Homo sapiens: one gene and its partners. The protein of the gene in region 4 purifies or fractionates together with the protein of the main gene of each other region. This does not show direct contact. Each region holds a gene or a part of one and is shown on either strand. Other genes may lie near its edges.

Region 1 (6,062 bases), on a different chromosome or scaffold from region 4:
ACAAATGACATATGGTATTAGTATTACACAATGATTAAGTGTCATATTCTGTGGTAACACTCTTGAGTCTGAACTCTTACTCTGCCAATTACAAGTTACATAACCTTTGTTAATCTATTTCCCCTGTCTAAGCCTTGGATTGATCTTTGGTAAAATGGTAAAAGCAACAGTACCTAACCTGTAAGTTGATAATTAAGTGGCATGACACGTTAAACATTTAGCATAGTACCTGTAACATGTTAGCTTTTATGTGAATCATGTATTATTTCTTCTTTTTAAAAGTAAAACTACTGATATGACCCAAATCTATGTGAATGTGGGTATTTTGAAATAAATTGATGTGGGAAAAGTGTCAAATTAATTTTTATATTTGCCTATTGCAAAGGCTCCCTGCAGACTCTGAACTGCCATCTCAACCTTTTCTTTGGCTTAAAGTCTTTGCTCCAAAATTCATCCAGGGAATTCATTAGTCCAGGGATCCCATCTGTGGGCTCTAGTTGTTTTCCTGACATGCGTACTGAGATTATTTGAGACTATCCTTTTGATTTTTCTGTCTTAACTACTTGCAGTTTCCTCCATCTCAGCCCAATGTATCATAGCTGCCAGCGTATCCTGCTGTCACACATTTATTGGGCTTGTTGAATGCATATAATATGGCTTCAAGGCAAATACACTGATTCCACTCTCACATTCTCTTGCAAGCCTCCCAAAGCTCTGCCTCTCATTTTAAGAAACTCTGCCTTAAATAATCAAACAAAGACATCTGCCAAAAACACTTGGCTCTGCAAATAGCAAGCAGATTCATTGCTCTTCCTGTCATTGGCAAATGGCAGCTTGGAAATTAGAACCGGGGAGAGTAAAGAGGCTGGTTACTGAGAACTCTGATAAAGACAGGGGACAGGTGAATTTTGAAAAATTTCTAAGCCAAAGAAATACATAAAAGAACTATTCTTGAAATGTCCAGGAATAGTGTGTGGGACCTTGCACACAGCAGGTCCTTAGTAAATGTTTTATAAATTATAAATCATGGCATTACTTCTGCCAGAGACCGTCAAATTATCATTTCTTTTTAGTCTTTCCCTGCAGTCCTAGAGTATCGTGTAATATATAAATAGATGAAATCAGGAAACAGTATTTCTCCTTGTGGCATTGACTGGTTTTAACCATTTTCATGTGCAAGCATTCCCTGTTCATTTTTGAACTATGTTGGTTTTTCTTTATATTGATAATCAAAATTATGTTAAGGCCCTTAAAGAAGAACACAGAGTCTAGTAAGAAGAAAAAAGACTTTCAGAGGTTTTTTTTTTAGGTCATTTAAATGTGTTAACAGTTAGGTTACAAAAAAAATAACATTCTGTCTCTGTTCTCAAATTTGAGTTAAGAATTTTTCTCCTTTTAAAAACTTTTAAAGGTCCAGCTTTTGAATAAAAAAGTCGAAATTACTCTAAAATATACGAATTCCAAATACAAGCTCCTATTTCATTTTGAATGACTTTATTGAGAACATTTTGCAAATTAGATTTTACAATTTAACATTTTACAATTAGAAATTTTATCTGCTATTACATAAGCTGCAAACTTTTCAAAAACACTACAGAAAATCTTTTATTTCTTTGGATTTTTCTGTTCCATGTTGAGCTCCTGAGATATATTTTTTCTTTCAGCTTCATTTTCATCTTCCTGTGAAATAAATTTTAGAAAACATTAAAATATAAACTTTAGAGCATTTATCAGCTATACTTGACAGATTTTAACTGCATCTGTAGAACTATGAACTACTGTGATTCTAATAATCCTAAACACAAATGGTAAAATTATGTAACATTTAAATATTTGCAATAGGTGCTGTTTTATAGAACACATTAAAATTTTCTGTATGTTTTTAAAAGCAACCAATTTTAACAATGCCCTAAAAATTACTTTGGAAACACCTGCCACTGAAAAGTGTTCTTTGCAGGGGATGAGCTAGATATTTTTACTTCACTGCTTGACAAAAAACAATAAATTTAATTGCTAAGACACTTCATGTGCTCCAGCATGGCATTTTTTTGCCCCATCTAGTATACTTTCTTGACAGGTGTGCCAATTTTCCAATTACTTGTACCACCATATGTTATCTGAAGATCAGTGAGGTCTAAAATAGGAAGCATGTGCATGTCGGCTTAGAATGCTTACAATCTTCTACAGTTTCAATTCTAAGTGGTGGCCTCATAATTCATAGCAGGTTCCTGTGGAACATGGTGAATAGATGAAATGACATCATAATGTCTGCTTTCATAGAAATGAAGTGCATCTTGTGTTCAGTATTAAATGGTAACCTTCAAAGTATAAGCAATGAGAGTCTGGAAAAATATTTCATCTTACAATTTGTAACCCATCTCATCATACATGTTCTTTCAACACACCCAAGTACAAAACAGTCTTGCTTTCCTAATATTTCTGATTTATCATTTAAGATTATTTATTTTTATTAACTGACATAAAGGTACTCTTCTGAGTTAATTAAAGCATAAACATCAATTTAAGTATTTCTAGACAACAGTAATAATCATCAATATCATCAAACATACCACTCTATCTCTGTATCTGATGAAACCAAATTAAATCATTGAATTAAATAATTGTTGAACTCTACTTTGTGAATTGACTTTATAAAGTAAAAGCAAACCAAGGTATGCATATTTGTTTTCTATGACAAACTACATACTTGCCAGTAATGATTAAGGCGGGTGAAAAAAGCTTTTTTATATACTTTGTTTCTCTAAACTCAACGGAATCTGTGATTTAGACTTTGTTAACACTGGGAAAGTAGAGAAATTATCAATATTATCAACCAATCTGAATCATTATAGATATGTAGAACACCAGGAATGGGGTTTTGAATATCATTTTGGCAATGTAACTTTGATATATTTTTCCAAGTATGATAGCCACTGTTTGTCATTTCATTTTTTCCTTATTTTATCTCCAGTGAATAGATACATTAAGTTTGATTCTTGAAAATTTATTAATGAACATGTGTTTTCCACTTTTAGAAAAAAGTTCCTACAGATGACATTTCTTTTTTTTTTTTTTTGAGACGGACTCTTTCGCCCAGGCTGGAGTGCAGTGGCGCGATCTCTGCTCACTGCAAGCTCCGCCTCCCAGGTTCACGCCATTCTCCTGCCTCAGCCTCCCGAGTAGCTGGGACAGGCACCCACCACCACGCCCGGCTAATTTTTTGTATTTTTAGTAGAGACGGGGTTTCACCGTGTTAGCCAGGATGGTCTCGATCTCCTGACCTCGTGATCTGCCCCGCCTCAGCCTCCCAAAGTGCCGGGATTACAGGCGTGAGCCACTGCGCCCAGCCTAGAGATTACATTTTAACTACATTATAATAAAAAGTAAATCTTACTCTACACTTTCCCCTGTCTTCTTCAGGAGAGACACTGTTAGAAAGTGTTAAATCAGCAGGTACGGATGGCAAGAAATTTTTGATATGTAGCACTGAATTTGTCCATCTGTTCCTCAAAGGAAGGTTTTATCTTCTGTATCTTATACATTCCTACCATCTAACAGGACATACTTAGTATATAGTTGTAGTCCAATCAATATTTTCTGAACTATGTGAAACAGTGGAATAATGAACGAATAAAAGGTATGCCTGAATTAATACATAATTTGGAAAAGCACAATATTGTTCTTAACTATCGTAAATTAAGATTGCTAGTACTCACACTTCTAGCAATCTTAACTTACTATATAACAACAGTGAAAATAAAAATAAGCAAAAATGTTTGAAGCAACATGAGCCAAAACAGCCATTATCAAGCTCATACCCTTTAATTTATAAAAGAAAGATGGAGCCTTTATCACACGGACAGTCTACTAAGTTTCTCCACCGTATGACTTCCCGGTTTAACATGCTTGGCTATCTAGTTTTCTCTAGCAACCTTGCTGCTCTAAGTCAAAACACAAATGTAAAGACTTAATAACCCCAAGGACTAGGAGGTACTTATATACTTTATTTTCATATTTAACTATGGATATAAGCTATTGGAACATGGTTAAATGAAATAAAAATTTGCAACTTCCATTAATTTGAATATGTTTTAAATATATGGATAAGATATATATAGATATGCCAGTTAAGTAACATTCTTAATATAATGTTTGTCTTTTTGTTGTTGAATTTTTCTTAGAAATAAAGTACAGTTTATAAATGCATGCCTTCTAACACTGCCTGCTGTTCAGGACAGGTACATAACTGTTTCACACCTTTCTTTGTGCTGAGGATTTGTCTTAAAACATCTTGCCTTTTATGCTGTTAAGTCACTTATATAACAAATAAGAGCCAATCTCTTTCTTCCTTTTAGAAGGATAGCTGTAACCTAGGTGCAGAAAAGCATTATGAAGGGGTGAAAAAGGCATTCCACTCTAATTGCTAGAGTATAATATTAAAATTGCTATAACATTATCAAAATAACAGTAATAGATTTTATCATAAATAACATTAAAATTTGATCTAATAAAGCTCTAGGGAAGTCTTTTTGGAAATGCTAATTTATGTTTTTCACATTGCAGGTCAATTTTTGTAAGAATTTATACGCAGTTCCAGATTAATAAAAATCATTAAAGTAACTCAGACAGCAAATAAAATATAATTGATAAATGACTGCATAATAAATAAAATTGCAAAGGAAGCTTTTTACCAAAGCATTTCTTTACTACTGGATATTATAGGTAAGCAAAAATTTCTTCTGATATACAGGAGGGTTTTTTTTTTTCTCTCTGCTGAGATAAGACATCTGTTTGTTTCCCAATGAAAGAAGACCCTGGCTACATGGATCATTTTCTTAGTGACAGCCCTGACAAGTTTGACATTTGTTTCATGAAGTGTTCTGAAACAATCGTAAAGAAAATGTATCCTTTGAGGCTACTGGAAAGTAGACAGGCTTACCTCTTAATGTTTAAACTTGTTAATTCATACTCTAAAAAAATACACTGACTATAACAACTTTGCAGATCTGCTAGTTATATGTGAAATTTCAAGAATGTGCACTCAATTAACAGTAACACCTGTAATATCAAATGACAAAATTTGGTTCCTTAGCCTTGCTCTTTTTACACGGACAGAATTGTAGTGAGAATGGTAATTTCTAGGCACAGATGGACCATTTAATAATGGGCTGATACTCCAGGTGGCAATATGAGACTGAGTTATTCTAACAGAGAAATTAAGTAAACACACTGCCATGTTTATCTTATCACTAAATAAAACTTGCAAGATTTTGCTTAAATGTTAGTCAGCTTGCACTATCAATTTGTGATAGAGGAGACCCTCGGTTTTTCTTTATTTATAAATGTGATTTAGTTCTCATGATAGTTCAAATAATTGATGCCAATTAATAAAACCTATCCATTCTTTTCCTTCCTCTTAGGACGTAACCAACTCCTAACAATGGCCAACTATTTTAGCATCTGGAATTTATATCACTCAGGTAATACCTGGATACAAATTACACTCTATGAGTACAGATAACTTTGTTTACCTTGTAGACTGCCAAGTTTAAAAGATTTCTTAAACTCTTGTAATCCTTTATATAAAAGGATTACACAAAGAGGCAACTCTCCCTATTCTTTATATCTTTATAGATGTTGATGTAAGTACCTTTATAATGGAGAAACATGGCAAACAACACCTTAACCAAATGGTCAAGGTTAATATCACCAATAATATATATTAACACCCTGATACGATGTATTAAAAACGGCACATCACCTCTGGTTTGTGGTATCCTTCCCAACAGGGTATAACCTAATTCTAATCTGAGAAAACATCAGATAAACCCTCTACAATATAATTAAACAGTAGTCTTCAAAATGTCAAGGTCGGCCGGCTACAGTGGCTCACGCCTGTAATCCCAGCACTTTGGGAGGCCGAGGCAGGCGGATCACAAGGTCAAGAGACCGAGACTATCCTGGCCAACATGGTGAAACCCCGTCTCTACTAAAAATACAATTATTCGCTGGGTGTGGTGGCGGGCGCCTATAGTCCCAGCTACTCGGGAGGCTGAGGCAGG
Region 2 (7,000 bases), on a different chromosome or scaffold from region 4:
CGCCTTCAAACTGACGTTCCGTCCCAATGACTGTCACAACTGTGCAAGAATCGTACGCTGGTACAAGAATGGAAGAAGACAGCCTGCAGGAGGCCACATTCACAATGATGAAGACCTCGAGTGGTCGCCTCTGAGCCTGGGCAGCCCATGGGATGGTCCTGGGTGGTGGCAGGTGGGGCTATCCTTCCCTTACCACTCAGGGAGACGGCAGGACTGTCCCTCGGAGAGTTTGTCAAGGAGTCGGCCACTGCTGCTGACAGTGCCTTCTGCTTCATGGCACGGAGCATTTCAACAAGTCTCTCTTTGTCTATGAGAAAAGCAGCCTGAGATTAACGAGCCAGTTGCATCATTTTTTGGAGAGAAGGACAGCGGGATTCTAGCCGAGCCTTGAGGGGCAGGCAAAGCACTAAAGCCCGAAAAACCAAAAGCAGGTGTGATGGGGCAGGCCCAGTTGAAAGGAAGCAACCATCTCAAAGCGAGCCCAGATTGCTCTCGGCATCCACTACACAATGTCCTAGACGTGCTCCAAAGACAGCTGTCCGTGCGGTGACGACGCCTCTGTGAATCACTGTGCCCACGGACCTCGGTGGTGACGTGCGAGGATGTATTCTTATTTCAAGTCAGACAAGGTGGCCCCAACACAAAGAAACACCCCAAAGACCCAGGCCTGGCCTCTGAGGCAGGGTGCCTTCTCCCCCACTCCTACCATTACTGCCACTTCCTGAAGGGGAAAGATGACCCCACGATGTTCCACGCAGCAGATCCCTGATGTCACCCGGCCCTTCTTGACTGTGAAACTCAAGGGCTGCATCGCCCTTAATTTTTTTTCCTCCAAAAATTCAGGGAAAAAGATGCTTTGTATCTAGGGAACTGGGCTGGCAATCAACACGTCACTAGCCCGCTAAGAGAAAGGGAAAACTACTGACTGGTTAAAAGGAGAAAGTAAACGGCTACACCCTGATCAACACCTTGAAGCTGCTCAAGGTCCAAGAAGTAACTCTGCTTTCCTTCGACTTTCTCCCAGAGAGGAGGCCAGGGGCCCACGAGGACTTGAAAGCGTGCGTAAGGGGCAGGGCCAGGAACGTCAACATCTGGGCACCAAGCCAGCCTGCGCTGCAGGCCAAGGAAGCCAAAACCCTGAGCAGGTGTTGTGGCTGCGTTGTTTCTTCTGCTATATGGATTCGAGCCCAGAGGGTCTGTCCCAATGTGGCCCTGTGTGGCCAGACTGAACTGGAAGCATCTTTCAAGGCAAGCCATCTGCTCAGTGTGTGCTGCCCTGCTTGGCAGCCCTTCCCCAGGCCTCCGGCCACCAGGACACAACACCCAGCAGACCACCTAAGCGGTCCAGCAAGAGGAAAAGCCTGCAGCAGACAAACCTGGAACACCTGGCACCTCCCCTCACGCCTGGTGGTCACTGGAGCACTCGGCTCAAAGAGCGCCTTCTCGGGCGCTGGGAGATGGATGAGTGACATGGGTAGTCCTCAGGTCAAGATGGTGGGGCTCTCAGAGCAAAGCCTGTCAGGTAAGGCTGCTATGGAGGGCTTGTAAGAACAGAGAGGCTGTTCCCGGGAGCCGGGAGGAGTAAAGGGGCAGCCTCAGGCTCAGTGATCGCAGATCCTGCCTGGAGTCCACCGGCCCCACCTGCTGCTTCAGAAACCCACTTCCACCCCAGTGAGCCCCCACCTTCCTACCCAGGCGAGGCCCTACCTTTCCTCTTCTCAGCGCTGATGTGGGTCAGGTTGAAGATGGTCAGGAACTTCTTCTTTTCTTCGAAGTTGGGACTGTTGTTCATCTCATCAGGGCTGTAGCGGGTAGACAGCGCCAGTCTCGGTGAAGGCGTCTGCCGCTTGCTCTGAATTGTTGGGGGCGACGGGCTTCTCTCTCGCAGCATCCTCCGCCGCTTCCTCCGCTTCTGGGCCACCAATTCCTCCTTCTGCTGTTGGGTGGTCAAGCCAAAAAGTTGCAAAAACTCTAGCTTCTAGATTGGGAAAGAAAACAAATGAGTTTGAAGCCACTGGCAGTGGTATGCTTGCACTGTCCCGGGGTCCCCTCCTGGGGTCCTCGAAGTGTGGGCCGTAGCTGGCTGCGCCTGGTGGGAGAAGAGCTTCATGGGGCGAACCCGCCAGGACTTCGGAGGAACCTAGCAACAGTGGGGTGGACTGCAGGGTGTGGACGCTAGGAACGAGAGCCCAGCCCAGAGCATGTCCGTGGGGAGGAGAGCCCAGTACCTCAGAGGACGTGTCCAGTTTGAGGGGCGGCTGCTCGGCCACGCAACGGAGGTGGGCCCTGACCTCCTCCTCATCGCTCTCGTCGTAAGAGTCATCGAGGTCGTAGTAGTACCCTGATGGAGAAATGGTTGTATTCAGCCAGACAAAGAGCCTTCATCTGTCCAGTGGACATGCCCGCAGGGCCTCATGTGTGCAGAGCACCTATCAGGCCAGGCCTGCTGGCACCTGAACACCCTGAAGGCCAGTTCCTTTCAACCGAGGTGGAAACCAACATTAACCCAGTCCTGGGGCTTTGCAGGACCGCAGACACCAGGCTTCCCTGGGATCCATGGCTCCCAGTAGCTGGGTGGTCCCCTGGGCTGACAAGACCTCCCTCCTCCCCCTGGCAGGGAACCATTCATCACACAGGCCTGGGGCTGTGTCCACGGCAACACAGGGCTGCTTGTGCACATGCACTCCCCCATGCTGTGGCCATCTGAGTCCATCTCCTGGGAGGAGACAGGCACACACAGGCCTGAGCTCTCTAAGACACAGAGAACAATAGCAGAGCCCCTGCCCAGGGGCGCTGGGGTATCTCCCTCCTCCTTTACAAAGTGAGTAGGGGAGAGAAATTTGGCTGGGCCCTCCATCCAGCCTAGACCAACAACCAGGAAGACCGCCTGTGCCCCAGCTTCTATTGAAGAGGAGGCTGAGCTCAGCACTGGACAGGACCTGAGTGTTCAGCATCAGGAAGAAAACTGGGCTGGAGCCCCTGCTCCCCTCTGCACACTCTCGCCTGCTCGGTTGCTCTTCCTGGCTCTCTGGAGAACTCAGGGAGCCGCTGGCTGAGGACGCCCCACCCCCAAGCAGAAATAAGAATGAAGTGCCTGACCTCCTACCCTGACCCGGGGCAGTGCCAGCCGCCGCGTCCTCAACCCCTGACCCACCTGCTGCAGCTCGTGGCAGCGGCCCTGTATGTGGAGCCCCCGCTGAGCCCAGGCCGGCTCTCCTGTTATGCTGCACTATTAATATTTAAAACTATCTTATTAGCCTCCGCTCATCACTTATTCATCATGCTTGTCTGCGGAACTATCTTCACAGGCGGGCTTTGATTTGGCTTTTTGGGACAATTTGCATCGAGGCAGGACAGGCACGGGGACTAGGGTCTGCCTCCCCTACGAGGGTGTCATGCTGCTACAAAGAAGCCAGTGCACTTGCCACCTGGGGCCTGGGACTACCCCAGGCAAAAAGCAGGAGTGGACGGAGAGGGGCAGGTGGCTGGCATGCAGGCTCCCCATCCCCACTGTGCGGCTCTCCCTGAGCAGCTCGGGGCCCGCGGGGAGGCAGACCTTTCTCCTGGGCCTCCCGCCGCCTGCGCTCCTCCAGGTCCAGCTTGCTGACCAGCCTCCGGCGCTGCTGCAGGAACTCATCATAGATGTAGGCAGGGTCGGGGGCCCGTGGCACTGGGGGCCGGTAGGGCGAGCCAGGCTTCAGGGGTCCGCTGAGCTCCCCGAAGGTGGCCGCCTGTGGGAGGGAGGCCCGCTGCTGGCCCAGGATGGTCTGGGTGGACTTCTCGAGCTCAGCCAGGAAGGGCCCGGGCCCGGGCAGGAAGGGCTGGTGCTCCAGGCTCCCTCCCTCTCGTGGTGGCGGCGGAGGTGGCTGGTACTTGTCCAGAGGGGCAGGCTCACGCTTCCGTGGCCCCTCCTCTGCTTTCTCCGGGCAGAAGACCCGCTCCACCTTCACCAGCGGCACGGCTGCCTGGCGGCTGGGCTCAAATGCAGCCGGGTGGCTGTGCAGAGAGTGGCTTTCGGCCCGCCGCGTCTCCAAGGTGTTGTCCATCAGGGACACGGGGTTCCAGAGGGCCGTGGGTGCAGCATGGAGCTGGGGCTTGGGCGAAATCAGAGGTGGTGGCCCCCCAAAGTGCTGCGGAGGGTCACGGCCACCTGGCTCGTGACGGTTTGGTCCTGGCCTAGGGAGTGAAACCAACCCTTCAGTCAGGGAGAAAAGACCCTTCAGTCATCCACAGGCTTCCCTGGCTGCCTGCCGCTCCTAAGATGACACAGATGGCGCAGCCCCTTAGAGAGCCAGTGCCAACAGGGCTGCAGGGAGGGGACACACACTCCACCCCAAGGATCATTGTTTCTGTCTTTCATTTTCTCTTTTCCTTTCTTTTCTTTAAAGACTCGGCCGGGCGCAGTGGCTCATCCCTGTAATCCCAGCACTTTGGGAGGCCGAGGAGGGTGGATCACAAGGTCAGCAGTTTGAGACCAGCCTGGCCAACATGGTGAAACCCCATCTCTACTAAAAAATACAAAAATTAGCCAGGCATGGTGGCGGGTGCCTGTAATCCCAGCTACTCCAGAGGCTGAGGCAGGAGAACTGCTTGAACCCAGGAGGCAGACGTTGCAGTGAGCTGAGACCGTGCCATTGCACTCCAGCCTAGGCGACAGAGCAAGACTCCGTCTCAAAAAAAACAAAAAAAAAGACTCACTCTGTCACCCAGGCAGGAGTGCAGTGGGGCAAGCTCAGCTCACTGCAACCTCCGCCTACCAGGTTCAAGCGCTTCTCCAGCTTCAGCCTCCCGAGTAGCTGGGATTACAGGCGTGTGCCACCATGCCCAGCTACTAATTTTTCCTATTTAGTAGAGATAGGGTTTCACCAAGTTGGCCAGACTGCTCTCGAATTCCTGACCTCAAGTGATCCACCTGCCTTGGCCTCCCGAAGTGCTGGGATTACAGGAGTGAGCCACTGTGCCCGGCCCTCCAACACCTGCGGCAGGTGTGTGCAGGCTGCTCCAAGAGGATAGGGAGGCTCCCAGCCTAAGCTGCTAGGGAAGGCAGAGACCCTCTCAGGCCTGGGACAGATCCAGTTTCGGTCGATTTTCCCACCTGCTTGCGTGAATTCCCCTAAGGGCAAGCGCTCATCCGCACTTTCCATGGGGAAACCCACTCTATATACTGGGCTGTGGCCCTGCCACCAGCACCCTCTCCTCCTGCTGTGCCTTGTAGGGACACATGACACAGGGCAGGCTGGCCACCTTCACAGGGCAGTACTCCTCCCTCCCCACTGTCCCCGCAGGCAGCCACAAGACAACCTTCCAGTGTCTGCCCAGCCAGAGCCAAACCCACTGTGAAATGAAGATCCTCCCAGTCAGGATGGGGCCTGTGCCGAGACTGCCCCCCAGTGGCCCCTGTCACAACTGCAGCGACCCCACTGCCCAAGTGGCCTGTGGCAGAGGCCTCAAAGTGTCTTCAAGGACCCAGGCTAAGGCCTGCTGAGGCAGGGAGGGAAAGAAGGGATTTCTAACATCAGAACCCTTCCATTAAACAAGAAGCTGCCCCTTAGTTACACTAAATGGCTTGTTTCCTCAGTGCAATTAAAACAAGATTTAATCTACTCACAGGGCTATTTTTAGTATTGTTTTTCCAGCTTATTTTTAAGAGATGGGTCTCGCTGTGTTACCCAGGCTGGAGTGCAGTGGCTATTTACAGGAGCAATCCCACTACTGATCAGCGCGGGAGTTTTGACATGCTCCATTTCCGACCTGCCCTGGTTCACCCCTCCTTAGGCAACCTGGTGGTCCCCCGCTCCCAGGAGGTCACCATATTTGTGCTGGACTTAGCTGGGACACCTAGTGGGTATAGTACACTACAGCCGAGAACTCCCGGGCTCAAGCGATCATCCCATCTCAGCCTCCAGAGTAGTTGGGCCTACAGGCATGTGTCACTGTGCCTGGCTATCTTTCTTTTTTTTAAAGGGAGATATACTCACAGGATGTCTGGACCAATACTGTGCAGAGACCCTGGGCAAAGCTTGAGGGGAAGAAAGAGGCAGAGGCCACAGCAGGCACACGGCCGGGCTCAGGGATCTCTAGCCTGCCCCGGGAGCCCTGTTTAAACACAGCCACCAAGGCTCTCCCTAGTTATTCCAGACTCCAGGCCAAGGGACAAATCCGACGCTGCTGTCCCTCTTAGCAGAATACAACAGGGAACCACAGGAAGAAGCTGTGTCCTTAAGTAAACAGCAAGGGAATGAAACCTGCAGGAGAATAAATATTTCATGCGCCACACCAAGCACTGAACAGTTTTCTAGCTTGGAGCATGAGGGCCCTGTCAGGCCCCCAAGTTCACAATGCTGTAAGGCCACGTGTGCAGCCGGCCACAGGGGAACCACCGCAGCCAGGGGAGGCCAGGCCCTGCTTCCCATCATGCCCCAGGTCCGGATGGGGCAGCTACACTGGCTGGAAGCAGTCCATGGGTGGGCAAAGTCACAACACCTGTGCTGGGGCCCTGGGGAGCCCTGAGGAAGAAGATGCCTACAGGAGTCAGGGCACCCTGATGTTATCAGGCCATGCCAGGTAGGAGCTGGCTGCCCTCAGTCCTCTGGGTAGTAGGCAAGGCTGAGCCTGAGAGGCCTCAGGGACGGGGGCTGGGAGAGGCAGAAGGGATCTCACTTCGGCCGTGCCGGGCAGTGTGAGCCACAGGGAGACTTAGCTGTGGCCTGGTGACAGTCACTCCCAGTCATCCCTGATCAGCGGGGGCGCATTCCCTCGCTGCCCTACTGGATAACGGAGGCAGGCAGAAGGGAGGACAGATTTTAAACCACCAACACGCTTCCGTCCCAGAGCCCAAGGGTTTCTTATCCCAGGACAGCATCACAGCCTTGAGAGCTGGAAAGATGCTCAGAAATCATCCTACCCACCCTCCTTTGTGGACAGTTGAGGAAAGTGAGGCTCAGGGAACAGAATCAGTGTCCCTAGGTCCCTGAGCTGGGCCTGGAGCAGAGCTATGGAA
Region 3 (8,815 bases), on a different chromosome or scaffold from region 4:
AGTTAGGGTGTATATTAAATATACCTAAATTTTTAGTATTATGATTTCCATACCTGTTAAATCATAGTGTGTCTTTGTAGGACGTATTTATATGAGCGTTTCAGAGATTTTTATCAGCCAGCAAAACTGTCCTCTGCGGTTTGCTACTTGCACAAAAGATCTGTTATTCATTAAATTGCTTTAGAAGGAATTCGTAAGAGTGGTAATCAAATTTCTAGGTGTTTTTTTTTTTTTTTTTTTTAGTTAAAAATATGAAGATTAAGGGGAAATTGAAGACAAGGCTTTGGAAAAGCTACATTCCTCAACTTGATTTTTAAAAGTAGCTGATGATCCAAATAAAAGAATTTGTCATTTTCAATCTTTTCCTCATTGTTCATCTGACAGCGGTCTTATTTTGGGAAATATCTTGGCAGATGTTAAACTTCACTTTTTTTCTGGCTGCATGTGCTAAAATTATTTTTCAAGTACTTTTTTTTTTTTTAAACAAGGGTAATGTTTACTGGGGGAAGTAAGTAGAGTGTATCTTGTGAGATCCTAAGAAACATCTTTTGTTAATACCCCTGCTTTGAGTAAGAGAACATAGTGCTGAGAATGTAGATGACTTCCCACTACAATGGAGTCTAATACTCTGGAATGTTTTTCGTTTGGGTGTTGGCAACTCCTAAATTTAATCTTCCCTGAAAACAAACAAACCAAGGGTACCTTTTTTTTTGTCTGTAGAGTTTGAACCTTTTTATTGAATAGGGAATTGAGGACTGCTTTCTTTTAGTGGTAACTATGTCTCTGTCCGTTTCAAGCTGCAGGACCCAACAAAACAGTAATGCTTCACTACAGTATCTAATTAACAGACATACTTCTTGAGCGCCTCCTCCTCATATTTTCTTATTTTTCAAAACAACTTATGTATTTCAGATTATTTTAATAGTGGTAAAATATATGATGCAAAACTTTAAAGCTGAGCCATTTTCATGTGTTTATATTGTTGCTTTTTTAGAATTGTGCCATTTCTCCTGGTAGTTTCAACATTGAGAATACCAGTTGCTGTGGAGTTTCTTGTGTAATATTTAATTTAGCACCCCTGTTTTAAAAAGTCATACATATTTTGCAAATTTTTCGGGTATGAAAATAAGTAAAAAGATGAAAATGACCAATCTCTTTATATTCAAAAGTAGACTTTATTTTATCTAATGTCGAGTAAGACTCTTATTTTCAGACATGATTCCCAACCAAGTCTGTATTAGTAGATTAACATGTAGTTCATATGTAGAGATCTGGTTTTAATGGTGGATAAACATTAAGTTCCTTCAAGGAAGTACTTATGAAACATCTGTGTGATACATTTATTGTGACTTTCATTACCTCACTTTACTAGTTATAGAGTGTATATATAATACTGTTATAAAGGTATCTGACAGCAGCTAAAGATACCAGAATTGACTAGAAGATAGTTATAGGCAAGGAACCAGGTCAAAAACCGAAACTAGCTATTTGGGAGGTAGGAAACTGGGTGGTTACTGCATGTGATGGCTGAAGTCGATCTATCCAGAGCTTCTTTAATGAGATAAAATTTACTAAGAGTTTTAAGAAAAATATCCTTTTTTCTAAATTTTTACATTTTCTATTTTTTGGTAGTAATTCACCTGAACTGGGTAATTTGGACGTGGCATACTTCTTGCCAGTAATTTTTGTGTGTGTTTATCAGATCAGTCAAATGTGTATTACATACCTGTTAAAGACACTATCCTTAAGCAGTGGAGAAAATAAGAACACGGCAGTGTATATTCTCAAGGAGCAAGGCTATAATCTAGGAAGAAGGATAAGGCATAATTACATGAAAAAATTTAAGTACTGAGTTAACAGTTTAAAAGCCATCTTAATGAAGCATGTAACTATTTATTGGAAATAGTGTGTGTTTAAAAGGGGGAGATGATTGGGCTGGGAGAAGCTATTGAGGATGAGAATCTTGACCTGAGTCTTAAACTTTTCAGTACTTGTATATTTTTACATATGTTCTCACATATGTACATGTATACATAATTGTTTGTATAGTATATTAAGTACCGACATGCAGTGGTTCTTAACTTGAGCAGCACATTGATAGCATGTTAGGATCTTTAAAAAAATGTTTGCTCATGCTAATTCAATTCCGTGCCCTCTTTGTCCCTTCACCCCACCCTGTAATATTGAATGGGTCTGGGATGGATCCCAGGCATTAATATTTTTATAAGTTCCCCATTTGATTCAAATGTGAGTCAGTGATAACAACTGTTGGACTGCAGTCTGGGTATAGAAATGAATAGGACATAAGCCTTGCCCACGAGGTGCTCTCAGGTAATATAAGGAAATGTGAAAAGTAGAGTAGTAAGTATAGCTTAGTGCCTGAGCAGGGTACCTAACCCAGGGAGGAGGAGTGATAGTTGAAGAAAGCTTCCTAGACAGTTACATACTTGTTTCCAGGGGGTTTGTGAAGTTACTGCCATTGAGTAGGGTTGTGTGAATGGGTTAATGGAGATGGGTGCCATAGAAAATGTAATCTTTGAATAGGTAGAGGTGGCACTGAAGTTTTGGTTTAAGTATAAAAGTTAACATATACAGTATTTAAAACTTCTGTTTTAAAATAGTGGTTGGCTAAAGTGGTTTAGCTTTAGTGGTTGGCTAAAGTGCTTTATGTACTGAAGTTCACAGCAATCTCATGTGGTAGTTACACTGTTTATCACTATTTCCAGAGGAGAAAATGAAGACTTAGAGCTTAAATGATTCAAGATCACATAGAAAGTAACTGATAGAGCAATATTTTAAACATTTTTGTGTATTTTGTGTGTATGTATATATCTAGGGAAAGGGGAGTTTTTAAAAATTAACCTACTTTTCATTATTCAGCATATTTCCCTAGATTTTTACATAACTTTTTATTAAAGATTATCTTAAGTAATTTAAACATCTGAATGAGGAAAACAGTAAAGGTATGGAATTGAATAGAATTTCAGGTCAAATTTGTGGACTCAGAGATTGCCTCTGACCCTCTAACCTATAGAGTGGCAAAATTTTGAACACCAGGCTCTCGGCAAAACGTAAATTTATTTTTGGCTAGTGGTCAGAAAATGTGAATCTTTGATTTTACCTAAGTGATATATTGTTTTTCTATCAAGATGGGGTCATGACACCTACTCCATAGTTTGAACTCGTGTTGGTGAAAGGGAAGATAAAGGAGCATTTAACATATAGAAAGCACTTTTAAGTGAACACAGGTTAGGTCATAATTATTTAGTATGTTTATTGAACATTATATATAGGACAAGTTCCACTTAGTAAACTTTATAAATCCAGGTGGATTAAGAAATGCCTTTTGTTATTCCCATTATGCTCCAGACTGTCTACCTTTCTGTGTGATGAGTCAGGAGAGAAACTAATAATGACTCAGAGTTGGAGAAAATTTGATTCGTGAATGGGGTAGATATAGTGTAAACACTGAGACTGTTTAGTGTAAAACCTGGGCTATTAGCCCAGCTTTCCTAAATGTTTGAGCTCACTGGTAAAGTAAATTGAAATTTTAATATTATCAGGATTTGTACTGAGTTGTCTGAGCTGGGATGTCATTTCTCATAAAAATAATAATTACATAATTAAAGTAGATGACATTTATGGTGTGCTTATTAAGTGCCAGGCACTGTTCTAAGCACTTGACATACATTAGTGCATTTAATTCTCACCACAGCCCTATGGGAAAATGGGGAAGAGAAGGTATGTTACTTGCTTCAGGTCATACATGTAGTGAGAAGTAGATTAGAGATAGTTTGCACTCACAGTCTTGTGCGTAATAAACCATCTTACTACACTTCAGTGTATTACATACTGTATACCTAGTTTAAGAAATACAAAGAATATTTTAGTGTTAAATTGTTAGTATATGACTATGGAATTTAAAAATAGCCCTATTTATAGAACATAGATGAAGTGAGACTTTAATGGAAAATTTTGAGAACAAATGAATATATAAACACTGGCATTAAAATTCTTATTTAAAATCATTATCAAGCTAGTGGCCTGTTTATACTATTTTCTTTGTTTTTTTCTTTCTTTCTTTTTTTTTTGAGGTGGAGTCTTGCTCTGTTGCCCAGGCTGGAGTACAGTGGCATGTGGTGTGATCTCAGCTCACTGCAGCCTCCACCTCCCGGGTTCAAGCAATTCTCCTGCGTCAGTCTCCCAAGTAGCTGGGACTGCAGGTGTGCACCACCATGCCTGGCTAATTTTTGTATTTTTAGTAGAGATGGTGTTTCGCCATGTTGGCCAGGCTGCTCTCAAACTTCCAGCCTCAAGTGATCTACCCGCCTCAGCCTCCCAAAGTGCTTGGATTACAGGTGGGAGCTACCGTACCAAGCCTATCTATGCTATTTATTATTTCTGCATTTTTTTTTTAGCACCTATGATGTGTGCCAGAAAATAATTATGCCATTTAATAGCAAGGTTGATATAATGTTTTATAAGTATAAAATTATTGGCAAATATTAGGGTTTGACATTTTCTCTGTGCTTTTTTTCCTTTTTTAAAAATTGAGATATAATTCACATACAATAAAATTTACCCTTTTAAAGTGTACAGTTCAGTGGTTTTTTAGTATTCACACGGTGTGCTCTTAAGTGCTTTTATATTTTCATCTTTATTTTTCATTATGTTCTTAGAACCTCTGGTCCCTAAATTTTAGCTTTCCTTTCAGTAAAGTGATATGGTATTCAAATTATGAGAAGCCATTAACTTAAAATAATTTAATATCAGCCTTTCCCACTTTACAGAGAAAATGAAATTATGGTAGGATCTCCTCAATTTTAAGTTTCTTAAAACTTGGGCACCTACTACCATTTGTTTGCAGTGGAGTTTAGTATAATAGGTATTTATTAGGTTTGTGCAAAAGTAATCACAGTTTTTGCCATTGAAAGTAATGGCACCAGCCTAATAGTTGGATTACTTTTGCAAAAACCTAACAATTTAACTGAGTGTAATACTTTCACCTTAATAAAACTTTTACATATCTTTCATGGAGATCTGCAAAGCTCTGTCATCTAAACATTTGGGAACATTGATTCAGAGTTAAAAAAAAAAAAAAAAGGAGTTTCCACTGCTTACCACTTTAGTTACAGTACTAGAATCAGTGTCCTAAAAGATGTTTCTGGGGGGACCATCTCTACCAGTATCACTTTTGCCATTTATTTAAAATCAGATTTCTGGAATCCACCCCAGTCTGGGTTAGGGATGTTATCTGAGAGTCTGCATTTTAACTTGAGTGATTTTGGTACACACTAAAGTTTGGGAAGAACTAACTTAAATACCCTGTACTAGTTTACTGATCCGTCAAATGAAATGAATGCTGGTTATCTAACAGGATTGTTACATGAATTAAATAAAATGATGTTTGTGAAAATGTTATAAAAATGCCCAAATCAGAAATTGTAGTTACTGTATAGGTTAATTTCCTATGAGGTTGTTAAACATTTTCATTTTTTTCTTCCAATTTAAAACTGTGCATATTTTAACAGACAGGTTGAGCTACTTGGAAATTCAAAGTACTTTAAACATTTATGTAATGTCACATACTTAGTGCAAAATGCTCTGTCTGCTTTGCCTCTTTTCCAGAATTTAGACAAGTCTAGACTACAGAAACACCTCAAATAGTTAATGCGTAATTAGAACTTTACTTTCACTCATTTTTAATTTTTACATATCTTTAAGTGAAAGCATATACTTGTGTTTATAAATGTATTTGATAATTAGCAACTCAAACTTTTAAAGCATTGTGTTTGCCATCTTATCAAACTACTATCAAGTGCAAACATTTTTCCCATTGATTACAAATCTTACATGTTAGACCTATAGGCATCCTTGACTGGCAATTGATTTTGAACATATTTGGTTAACTGCTGAGTCAACTTTCTGTTTAGATCTTAGGCAAATGTGTTATAGCCATATACCTACATGTATAGAATTGAGCCTCAGCCACCTGTTACATTCTCCTTAGGCTATGTAAAAATACACAGGGCACCATGGCTGAACGACATTGTAGGAATATTTAAATTCTAAAAGCAGCAAAATCACACACTTCAAAGGTAAAAAGAGCTCCAGCAAGTTCAAATCTTAGCATGTCAGTTGACTAGTAAAATGTTTATTCTGTGATAGTTTTTGGAGATTTTGTCCAGCAAAATTTTGTGGGTCACAGTGTATTTTTCAATGATAGTCTCATTTATTTTAAGTAGTTGAAGAAATAGGGCAGTTGTATTCTGAAAATTAATATTTTGTTAGGTTTTGCTGAAGTGAACAGATAGGAGAGAATTTATATTGTGGATTACAATTCTGTGGCAGCTGAAACTTTGTTTTCAGGCTCTTCATAATAAATTCTGTGGGGCCAGGTGCCATAGCTCACACCTCTAATGCTACCACTTTGAGAAGCTAAGGTGGGAGAATCAATTGAGCCCAGGAGGTCGAGCCTGCAGTGAGCCGTGACTGCTCAACTGCACTACAGCCTGGGTGACAAAGTGAGACCCTGGCTCAGAAAAACTCAAACAAAACAAAACTCTAGGGGGACTAAGAGAATAGGATAAATAAACATAATAATATACAGTTTGAAATACAGAACTGAAACAGATGAAATTAACTTAAAAAGACATCTTTCAGACTAAGCTTATCTATGGTCATGTAAGCAAACTACTTAATATTTTAGAATTTGCAGGTTACATAAAGTATCAATTGATTTTCTATTATTTTGGAGTTTTTTCCAGAATATTTTTAGTAGTATTTAAAAAGAATGTAAATCTCAGAACAGAGTTAACATTCAGAAGATGGTGCTTGAGGAATAGGAATAAAAAGTACGATTGTATTAGCTGAAATAATCAAAGAAGTTACTTTTAGGTTTCAAATTCTTGAAAGACTTCTCCATATCCTATAATGTAAGCAAAAGTTGATGCAAATCAAATTTATGTAATCCTAATTTTTTTCTGCTAGTAGAAGTAATGTGTTAAAAAAAAGGCAGTGTGTTCACTGTAGTTCTCTCATGGAAATAAATCCAAGGAAAGGTAGAAAAACCTGTTATCTTATACATATTAATATTTGTGTTTCTATTCTTATTTTTTTGAATCTACTTGAGAAATGGAACCACACTATTGATTTGTGTGTATACTTAACCACTCATCATGAGTATTTTTATGATGTTATTCTATAACTTCAAAAATAGGGGTGGATGTGTATGTATCTTTTGTTGTATGTTTTTTAGAGACAGGGATCTTGCTTGTTCCCCAGGCTGCAGTACTATGGTGTGATGACTCAGCCTCAAACTCCTGGGCTCAAGTGATCCTCTTGCCTCAGCCTACCAAGCAGCTGAGAGTACAGGCATGAGCCACCATGTCCAGTTGGATGCATGTGTTTTGTGCTGTTTGATATTAAAATACTTAACCATTACTTCATTGGGAAAGGACCTTACTGCTTATCTGCCTTATTATGTGGCTTTTTGATTAGCCCATAAATAGTCTTAGATAAATAGCCCTTTCCTTTCCTTTCCTCCCCTCCCCTCCCCTCCCCACCCCTCCCCTCCCCTCCCTTCTTCTCCTTTTTTCTGAGACAGGATCTCTGTCACCCAGGCTCAGTGCAGTGGCACGATCATGGCTCACTGCAGACTCAACCTCCTGAGTTCAAGAGATCCTCCCACGTGAGCCTCCTGAGTAGCTGGGACTGCAGGCTTGCACCACCACATTGGGCTAATTTTTTAATTTGTTTGTAGAGATGGGGTCTCAGTATGTTGCTGGTCTTGAACTCCTACACGCAAATGCTTCTCTCACCTTGGCCTCTCAAAGTGTTGTTGGGATTACAGGTGTGAGCCACTCCACCTGGTCTATTTTTTTCTTTTCATATATTGTGTTTCCTGAAACATTGCTCAGGAAAAGTGTTTGTGCCATTGAAAGAGTCTCATAGGTTCAGATAATTGTGAAGGATGACCAGAGGTTTTTTCTTTTTTTAAACCTCTATAACCTTTGATTTCACTGGGAAGTTGGTGGTTGGAGCTGGAGTAATTATAAATGTATGTATGCTGTAGCTGAAATAAGTTCCTGAAACTCATCATGGTATGCAAAATTGTGCAGTAAAAACTGTAGGGCATATGTGAAAATGGAGTTTGGGGCATAACACTCAAAAACTTTGTCAATGGCATTTAAAAAGATAGAAACCTAATAAAAACTAGCAGTTTCACACATGTTAAATGCTTAATAAGTACATAAATACTACAACAAATATGACACTTTACTTTGAAAAATACCTAAACTTTTTGAAAAGTGTTAGAAGGATCCCAGCTTGTGAATTACTGTAAAATGGTAGGAGGAAGGTTATCTGAAATTGGAGTGAGAGTGTTACACCAGATGTGGATGGGTGTAGCTCATAACGTATGCAGTGAACTGACGTAACTGGCAGATGTTTGAGGTGTGTATGCATATATTTCTACGTGACTGGGTTGCAGTTATCTGTGCCTGCTGAGCATTTCTTGCATTTGAACATAAGCAAACACAAAATTAGTGTTATTCTCAACTTGTTCCCTAACATGTGTTCATATCAGTGGCATTGGGACAAATCCATGTTTTTCTAAACAAATGTTATAGTGCGTATATGTCTACCCATGCATAGATATCTGTATCCCCATCAATCTGTCTAAAATATGTAAAACGTTGTAAAAACATAGAAAACAATGGCTTGGGAAGATCAATCCAAGTAATGACATAGAGGAAAGGTATAGGAAGCAGAGAAATGGGAGTACTCATATAAGAGTATACTAATAATGATCGCT
Region 4 (8,880 bases):
AGGCAGAAAATAGCATGAGCAAAAAAAAATATTAATGCTGGGTGCAGTACAGATTTTTTTCCCCCCAGAGGCGATCCCGTTTGGATGTGTAGATGAATAATGTGAGGTATGATCATAGTGTGAAAGGTCATTTTTGGTTTTCGTATTTAAATAAGTTTAGGAGAATGAGTTGAAAGTCTGCCTGTAACAATTCAAATTACCTTAGTGATTTGTGCCAAGATTAAGATTCCTTTTCTTGAAACTTTTCTATTTTGTATATCTTCTAATCATGGAAATTAGTGATTTCTCCTTCCCACAAGGAAAAAAAATTAAATCTTGACAACTGTGTGAGCATGCTGATAGGGGGACAAGGCTGAAGCTCAGTCAGTCTACCACTGCATCCCATACTGTGGGGAAAATGTAAAGCTTAAAACAGACATGTGGGCAAATCACAATAGCCAGAGTAGCAGAAGCAAGATTGGGGGTAAGATAATTGCATTAATGAAGCTTCTGGCACCAGGCATTGGACCAGGAGATTTACATACAACATTCTGATTCCACCAAACAACCCCATTTGGATTTAGGAAAACTGAGGCTTAGGGAGGTCAAATAAATTGCTCATGGTTACCAAGCTAGTAAGCTCAGCCAGTAAAATGCAGAGACCAGTGCTGAATTTGGGCCTATCTGATCCCATATTTTCCCCACTGTTCACTCTCATTTGTTTTCACAATACAAAAGAAGCTAGAATGGTAGGAAAATGATACATGTATCAATGAAAGGGACTGCATATTTAACACAGGGGCTTCTATGGTCTGGAGAAAAATTAGGCTGAAACATTCAAATCTGGGTTTAGAATGGCTTAGAGATTAAGACCAGGAGAGATCAAGTTTAGGGCTGCTTCTTTACCCAGTCTGAACAACGATCATAACATAGATCTTATTTAGGAATACCAAGGGAGCAAAATTCTAGTTTTAATTTGTAAATTAGAGAGTAAACTACAGTAGAATATGAATATTTGGCCGTATTTACTGTATTCAAAGTCCTGAGAACAGTGACTGGCATATAGTAGACACTCTAAACTTTTGCTTAAATAATGAAAAGTCACGTAAAGGGTATTCTCATTTGAATACCTGTGAAGGCTATGAAATAGAGACAGCAAAGCAGTAAGGTGAAAAACCATTCAGGTTCTTAAGATACTTTCTTTAATCCTCAACCCTACGGCAAAAACAACAACAAAAACAAACCACCACCAAAACGACAAACAAGGAAAGCAACAGTTGCAAAACATTAGCCTGATTTTACAAAGTAAAGTAGATGAAAGAATGAAAAGACACTTCTGTATTATGTATAACATCTCTGTGGATAATCTAATTTCAGTCAGATGGAATCCAGAATTGTGACCTACGGTTTTAATATTTCAAACTGCTGTGAGCAGTGTATCCAATGACTGTCTTTGGAAAAGAAAATGGTTATCTAATCCAAGTATTTGAAAAAAAGATTTGACACTTTCTTTGTTACATATATGGCAAGTAATGGAATGAAATCTCAAATTCATTAACTTGAAGTAACAGTACATGTACAAAAATATTAATTCTTTAAATTTTGATACTATATTTCTATTAAACATGCAAAGAAAACTGCACAAAGGGCATTAAGAAAAAAAAACCTTTGGAGGACAGCAAGCCTCTCTAAAGAAACATTTTTAAAAAGAATAAAAACAGGTTCTATGGACCTTCTCTCTCTATTTTTCACAAGCTTTTCTAATATTTCTTCTTTGATGGAACCAATGAATAACTGCCACTTATCACAAAATACCTTCTTTCAGATAGGTATTTTATATATTGCTTTCTTCTAAACAGATAGTTCTTCAAGCTGCTCAAGTCTTTCAGCTGCAACAATTTTTCTTATTTCTATTATACTGTATTTCTTCCATGGAGTACCATAAAGACCAATTTAATAAAGACAGTTTCCAAAAGGCAATATTACTCTATCTCAATCAGTATTTTAACATGATATTCTCTATTTTTTTCATTTAGTTCTACAATCTTTCCATACTTCAATAATTCCTAACACTACAGTTTCATTTGTCAGGGTGACCATATTATATTTTCTTCTATATTACATTAATATAGAAGATAGTGAACACTTCTTCTTTAATCAATTAATTCTTACTTCGGGCAGTCTACATGTTCCTAACCTATTAATAACCACAAAGACAATGTTTTGTCTTGCTTTTTCAGTCAACTACTGCAGCAATCGTGTGGTCTTTCAAAATATAAATCATACTTGATTTTAGGGTCTTAGATTCTTTTTTAAAAGTGACCACAGAAGATTAAAACATGTATTTTTTTTTACTGTAATATTTGGTTTAAAACATATTTTCTAATGAACCCTAACCCAAACAGCTATTTATTTATTTATCTATTTTTGAGACGGAGTCTCACTGTCGCCCAGGCTGGAGTGCAGTGGAGCGATCTTGGCTCACTGCAACCTCCGCCTCCCGGGTTCAAGCAATTCTCCTGCCTCAGCCTCCTGAGTAGCTGGGACTACAGGCGCACGCCACCACGCCCAGCTAATTTTTGTATTTTTAGTAGAGACGGGGTTTCACCATGCTGGCCAGGCTGGTCTCGAACTCCTGACCTCGTGATCTGCCCGCCTAGGCCTCCCAAAGTGCTGTGATTACAGGCGTGACCAAACAGCTTTTTAAAAAAACTATTATAGAATTAAAATAATCGCAGAGTCTGAGGCTAGATTAAGTACAATCCCAAAAGAAAAAGTACACAGGCCTTATTACTTCAAAAATTCTTGCAAGACAATACAGTTCTAGGTTCACTGATATATATACTAAAATTACTAACATTCAGATTTCACAAAGTAAGCTTCAAATAGATTGATTCCTTCAATACACAGACACACACCCTTCTAAGTATTGTGTTATCTGACAACAGAACCAAGGAATCAAAATTATTGAGTGTTTATTACCGCCTCACATATAGTTTATTAAAAATGAGCTACTGAAAACCAGAAAGTTCTTATTGACCTTTTGTCCTTTGTGAGCCAACTTTTTCCTGTTTAGAATCTGAGCTGAGTCTCATGACCCTTGCTTTATACTTTAAAACCACAAAGAACAGATACCATTTAAAAATCAGTGATGAATTAAATTACAAAGGAGGAAAATGTAATAAAATACAACTTTCAAAAATGTTACGTGTAAGCTACACATAAGAATTTTTAAGGCTGAAGAAGCTGTTCTCAGGCACAGGGCAAAACCTGTAGCCCAAAATCAACAGTCCTAATAATTTAAGATGTCAATTTTATCAGTTAAGGTAACCTCAAATTTGAGTACTTCAGTGTGATACTTTCATTCTGCTAAGATGAAAATGCCCCAGATTTTATGTAAAATATTCAGTCCCCTAAATAAAAAGTTATCTCCTTAAAAGAGAAGCTAGATTTCCTGTTGCATGTCAAGGCAGAGGGCACCACACTTCACCCAGCCAAGGCTGGACTTGAGTAGGGGTGCAGGTGTTGGCAATTCATCAGTCACACAAGCTATGTCGTCTTGCAAAGGTGCATAGAGATTTTTAACAAGGGCTTTCGAATTCTTTGAAGAAAACACAGACAATTTTGCTGGGGAGGAAATGCTCCATATTCCACGTGGAAGCAAACTCATAAATTCTGACTGCAGGTTGGTGTTCAGCACAACTTGGAATAATCTAACTTTTCACATAAAACACAATCCCCAAGCTGCAAGATAATGTCTCCGCGAATGGCACCAAGCACCACCTTTTCAAGCCCTCATCAGCACTGGAAGTGGGTCGGACACCCCCAAACCATCACCACCCCCCCACAGGAAGTGAGGGTGTCCCCCCTCCCCAGGACGGCCTTCCTCCCCTCCCCCAACCGGAAGTTGAGGCGCCCCCATTCAGCCGGCCTCCAACTGAGACAAACCAGTACCACCACCACCAAAAGAGGGGTGATCTTCAAGGGGTGAAGGGCATCTCGACTGGGGCCACCCCCAAGCTCGCCTTGCTTACTGACCTGCTGACGACAGGGGCAGGAAGGGGCCTAGGGCCAAAAGAAAGTCCCTTCCACAGAGGACAATTCCCTCAGCCCCTCTCAATCGCCTTCACTTCACGCACTCGTCGTCTCACAGCTGGACAAAAATTCTTCCGCAGCACTTTATTTTGGTGTCCTTTCCTTTTCTTTACCTAATCTCTTAACCACCTTTCCACAGGTAACTCCTCTTACCGCATAGCATTTACAATTGCTCCGGTGAGAAGAAAAATGAAATATTTTCCACGGTACCTTCACAAAAATGAAGGGATTATTTTGCCCCAATGCGGCGAAGGACTACGTGGTTACGCAAGGTGAGCCTTATTTTCGTGGAGGTTTCTGGGAGATGTAGTTTTTTTTTTTTTATTGCGAAGGCCCGCAGAAAGTAGAAGAACTGAAATTGGTCATGACTACATATTAGCGTCCTCGAAAACATATTCTGTATTCGATGACGGCTGACCTAGCGGGCCCCGACGCCCAAATGGGCCCAGACTCCCCTGGTCTTTTCCTCTGCGGCTTAATCGAACCCAAATTTTCCCTCACGCGGGCCCAAGGTCTCGGCAGCCCCGCCCCTTGTCTTAGCCCCGCCCTCCGCAGCCAATCAGGCACCCTTTAGGTCTCGTCCTCTGGAGGTTGGAAGGCAGAGAGGAGGGGCCTGGCGGTGACTCCTCCCGCTGGGGCTGAGGGAGACCTGGGAGACGACCGGGGCCCGTGAGCGCGCGCGTGCTCACGGCTCCAGGAGCGCGGCGAGCGGGCGAGGGCGCGCGCGGAGGGGCGGCGCGCGGGGCCGAGAGGAGGCGGGCAGGCTGGTGGGCTGGGCGGGCGGCGAGCGGCCGGGAGCGCGCGGTGGACTCGGCCGCGGCGAGTAGTTAGTTAGTTGTTGTTAGTCAGTGTCAGTTGCTCGGCGGCGGCGGCCGTGGTCACCAGGAAGGGGACGGGACGGACGGTGATGGTGGTCGCCGCGGCGGCGTGTGCGCCCCTCAGGTAACAGCGGCCCGGCTGTCCGCGTCCGCTCGGTTGTCTTCTACTCACGCGCCGTCTGTGGGACCAGGGTTGCCGCGGGTTGAGGGCGCTGACCCGGGGGAATCCGGGCGGGGCGGCGCGGGTTCTGGGTGGCGGCGCGGGTTCTGGGTGGCGCCGCCGCCGGGGCTCTGGCGGCCGGTGCGTCCCGCCCGGCGCGGGCTCTAGCTCCCCGGCCACCCCCGCGCCCCGCCGGTGCCGCGCGCCCCCTGCCGCCCCTGCCCCCTCCCTCGGCGGCGGCCCCGGGAGCGCGACGCCCCCCAGAGGAAGGAAAGTTGGGACCTGCCGCGAGGGACGCCCCCGGGCGCGGCTGGGAGGTTGCGGGGGAAAGTGAAGCCTGGAGGAGCTGGACGCGGGGAGGCCGGGGCAGGAGGGGCTTCTCTGGCTCCTGCCGGGTCCACACGGTCAGCCCGCTCCCGCACCCGGGAGCATCGGCGCAGCCTCGCCGGCAGCGTCGGGACGGAGCCGGGTGGCTCCCTGCCTGCTCCCTTCGCGCCGCGGCTGGGGAGCCCGCGAACGTGTGGGCTGGCGGGGTCGTTTGGGGGTTGTGAGTGGTTCGGCTGCTCAGTTTTTTTCTTTTCTGCCCTTTGACCCATCCGTTCTTGCAACTTTTCTTTCCTCCTTCGATGGGGACTTGCCGTCTGAACCGCGTCTGCCCCCTCCCCTCTCGTCGCATGCACCATCCGTCTGGGAGCTTGATTTCGTTTTTTCCTCCTTTGGCTACGTTAAAGATTGCTGAGAGCACCGGGAGAGACCCTCCTCCCCCGCCTGCCTCTGGCCTGTTAAATGTTACTTTTTGCGATTCGTTGTTTTTTAAAGATCCAAGTTCAGGAATTTGAGAGCTGTGGAATGGAGTTATTGGAAGGCTGACGTTGAGGGGGTAGTGATGAGTTAGAGGAAAACTATGATTTCATCTTTATTGGCCTTGCTATAGAAAACCTAATTGATTTTTTTTCTGCCTCTGTTGAATGTGGTAAGATCATACGTTGAATTAAATACTTAGAGACTTACATAAAAGACTATTTTTAGGTCATTGGATGATGTACGTGAACAGCTTTTCACCTGAATTGGGATTGCCTTGAGGATTCTGTTTTGGGGCCTACTTACTGATTTTTGTTCAGCCACAGCGTCTTTTTTTTTCCCCCGATAAATGAAGTGATGTAGTGATGTGTATAGTCAGAGAACCCATATTGCTCTCTGCAGTGTGGAAGTGAAAAACGTGAATTATCCACCGGGGTAAAACTTTCCATGAGCAATCTTGGATACTCACTTCATGATGGCTTCTCTCGTAATCTCAGAGCATTTCTAGATAGCTCAATTCACTGACGACCCTAATTACTTTCTGACTTGCCTGGGACTTCTCTTTGGTGACTTATTTAGTAAACTGTAATGGCAGATATGGTACATTTTCTTGGCTTCAAAGTTGAGGGTTATAGCCTCAGCCCAGAGATGAACAATGGAAGTAGAAGTCATAGCATTGCTAGTGAATTTTGGATATGACCAACTCACAAACTATGTGAAAAAACAAACATCCCCTTTTCATTGCTGTCGGGGGGGAAAGGGAAATATTTTATCATGTCTTTATTTTGGATTCTCTAACATGACTACATTATGTGGGAAAAAATGTCAAATTATTTTCTTTAAGGCTTTTTAATGTATGTTCCTTCTTTTCCCTCACTACCCCCCATCTCCTGTCCCAACTTAGAGGCTAAAATTTATGTGTGGCTGTGTTCTAGGGTTGGAAGAGAAGTGTTTTGGTGAAAGAAAAAGATAAGATCACTTTGAACTATTATGATACCTCAACTATTCGTTTTATCCAGTTGATAGTATACAGAAACTTTCACAATAATGTTTGTAGCCTATTAACATTCAAAATTCATTTTTAAGAGTCTACCCTGAAGGCCCATGAAGAAATAATGCCACTTCATAACTGTTTGCCGACAATCACATTAAAAAATATGTTCCTGGAATGCATTATACGTGTACTCATATAAACATTTATCTTTGTACATTTATGGTAATGTAAATATTTAAGTCTGAGAGCTTAAAAACTTTTATTTGCTTATTTGCATACATGTTTTTCAACATCTAGCAGTGCCAACCATATTTGCCAAATAAGCATCAGCTATAAATTCATGCTTTGGCACATTTCATATAATAACTCTTCTAAATTGTTCCGTGGTGAAGCATCATGAGATTAGCATTTGCTTCATGAGAGAGATTTGTTGTTCTTTTTAACTGTACTGATGTGCTGTTTAAGTGGAACGGGTGCTGGGCCCTAGCCATTTGTGTTGATACCTGCCAAATCATACCCTTTTGTTGGATGGGTTGTTTAAGTAATTTAGTAACCAAACTGTGGCCCCTGGCATGCCAAGTGTGAGTACAAGGCTCCATATCAGTGTTGCAAATCCCTGTTTTCAGTGTAAGAGGCAGATGTGTGTGATGAGCGTTATTCTGTCATTTGCTGATCTCTTTACTGTGATTCCTACCTCTTGCCCCCCTCCCCCCCCGCCCCGCATCCCCCCACCCCACTCTCCTTCCTAGTCCTTTCATTACTAAAGCTCCTGGTACTTTCTAGGTTCCCTCAAGGCTGGTTTGTTTTCCTTAGTGAAGTAGAAATCCTAGTAACCTTCAGGCCAGGAATAGATAGTTTACATTTGTTTGACAAATGTTTGAGTACCTTTTAAGTGCCAGGCATGGTGGTAGGTAGGACCTGAGTATTATAGAATATGAGATTCCTTTTTGCAAGGAGTTTACAGTTGAGGAGGAGAAGATAGGTGATAACCAATAATTATAGTATGACAGGGGCATGCACACATTCCTATGGATGGAAGCACAGAGGAGGGGTAGCTGACTCAGACTTCGGGGGATGGGTGGAGGGTGTCTAGAATGCATCTTAGAGTGTTACCTGAGCTAATCTTCAATAATAGGTAAGAGTTAACTAGGTCCAGAAAGAGGGAAAGTACATCTTATACCAGTGCTGTCCTATAAAATTTAATACAAGCCACAAATATGTTACATATACAATTTAAAATTTTCTAGTAACCAAATTTTAAAAAGTAAAAAGTGAAATTAATTTTAATAATATAAACTCAGTATATCCAAAATATCATTTCAACATGCATTCAGTATAAAAAGTAATATTGAAATATGACATTTCCATTTTCATACTGTCTTCAGAATCTGGTGCATAATTTTCTACTGTTTTCAGAATCTGGTGTGTAATTTACACTTATAGCACATCTCAATTTGGACAACTACATTCACATACTCAATAGCTGCAGGTGAGTGGACAGCAGCAGCACAGCTTTAGAACAGGGGTGGATGAAGTAATAAGCCAAATCAATGATTGTCTTGTGAACCAAGTTAATAACTTTAACTTAATTCCAAAAGTTGCGGGGATTTAGTGGGGAAAAAAAATTATGCTGTGGTAGAATCAGATTTGTATTTTAGACCTGTCATTTTGACAGTGAAGTGAATATTGAATTAGAGAGGGACAAAACTGGAAGCAAGGACCAGTTAGGAAGCTATTCCTGGTGAGAAATGATGAAGAGTGTAGAAGAGGGAGTGGCTCTATGAGAGATTTAGGAAGTATTATTAACGGGACAGGATAAATCTATTTAGATTATAGAATTGAGCAAGATTGAAGATTTTGGATGATTCCTACATTTCTGTTGTGATCCGCTGAGTAGATTGGGCAAGCAGCTGAAGAGAAGCCAACCATCTGTGCCAGACAGACCAAAGATGAAAAAAGGAAATAGAGATTTGTCATGGAAGCTGAGGGAGAATATTATTTCAAGGGCTAGGAGTGGTCAACACTGTATCCTG

The links.
Region 1: the proteins of HMG20A (region 4) and PHF14 purify together in Homo sapiens (affinity purification with mass spectrometry; 4 studies listed by BioGRID and IntAct, with this or other methods). This does not show direct contact.
Region 2: the proteins of HMG20A (region 4) and GSE1 purify together in Homo sapiens (affinity purification with mass spectrometry; 3 studies listed by BioGRID and IntAct, with this or other methods). This does not show direct contact.
Region 3: the proteins of HMG20A (region 4) and PAWR purify together in Homo sapiens (affinity purification with mass spectrometry; 3 studies listed by BioGRID and IntAct, with this or other methods). This does not show direct contact.

Annotation. Positions count from the first base shown.
Region 1 is NC_000007.14:11,165,034-11,171,095, reverse strand, and holds the end of PHF14 (PHD finger protein 14), read right to left. Parts: intron 1,681-6,062; coding exon 1,606-1,680; 3' UTR 1,478-1,605; downstream 1-1,477. UniProt on the Homo sapiens protein: Histone-binding protein. Binds preferentially to unmodified histone H3 but can also bind to a lesser extent to histone H3 trimethylated at 'Lys-9' (H3K9me3) as well as to histone H3 monomethylated at 'Lys-27' (H3K27ac) and trimethylated at 'Lys-27' (H3K27me3).
Region 2 is NC_000016.10:85,658,322-85,665,321, reverse strand, and holds part of GSE1 (genetic suppressor element 1), read right to left. Parts: intron 5,945-7,000; exon of another isoform or gene 5,647-5,944; intron 4,177-5,646; coding exon 3,557-4,176; intron 2,342-3,556; coding exon 2,229-2,341; intron 1,979-2,228; coding exon 1,708-1,978; intron 308-1,707; coding exon 194-307; intron 1-193.
Region 3 is NC_000012.12:79,679,894-79,688,708, reverse strand, and holds part of PAWR (PRKC apoptosis WT1 regulator protein), read left to right. Parts: intron 1-8,815. UniProt on the Homo sapiens protein: Pro-apoptotic protein capable of selectively inducing apoptosis in cancer cells, sensitizing the cells to diverse apoptotic stimuli and causing regression of tumors in animal models.
Region 4 is NC_000015.10:77,416,142-77,425,021, reverse strand, and holds the start of HMG20A (high mobility group protein 20A), read right to left. Parts: upstream 4,135-8,880; 5' UTR 4,018-4,134; intron 1-4,017. UniProt on the Homo sapiens protein: Plays a role in neuronal differentiation as chromatin-associated protein. Acts as inhibitor of HMG20B. Overcomes the repressive effects of the neuronal silencer REST and induces the activation of neuronal-specific genes.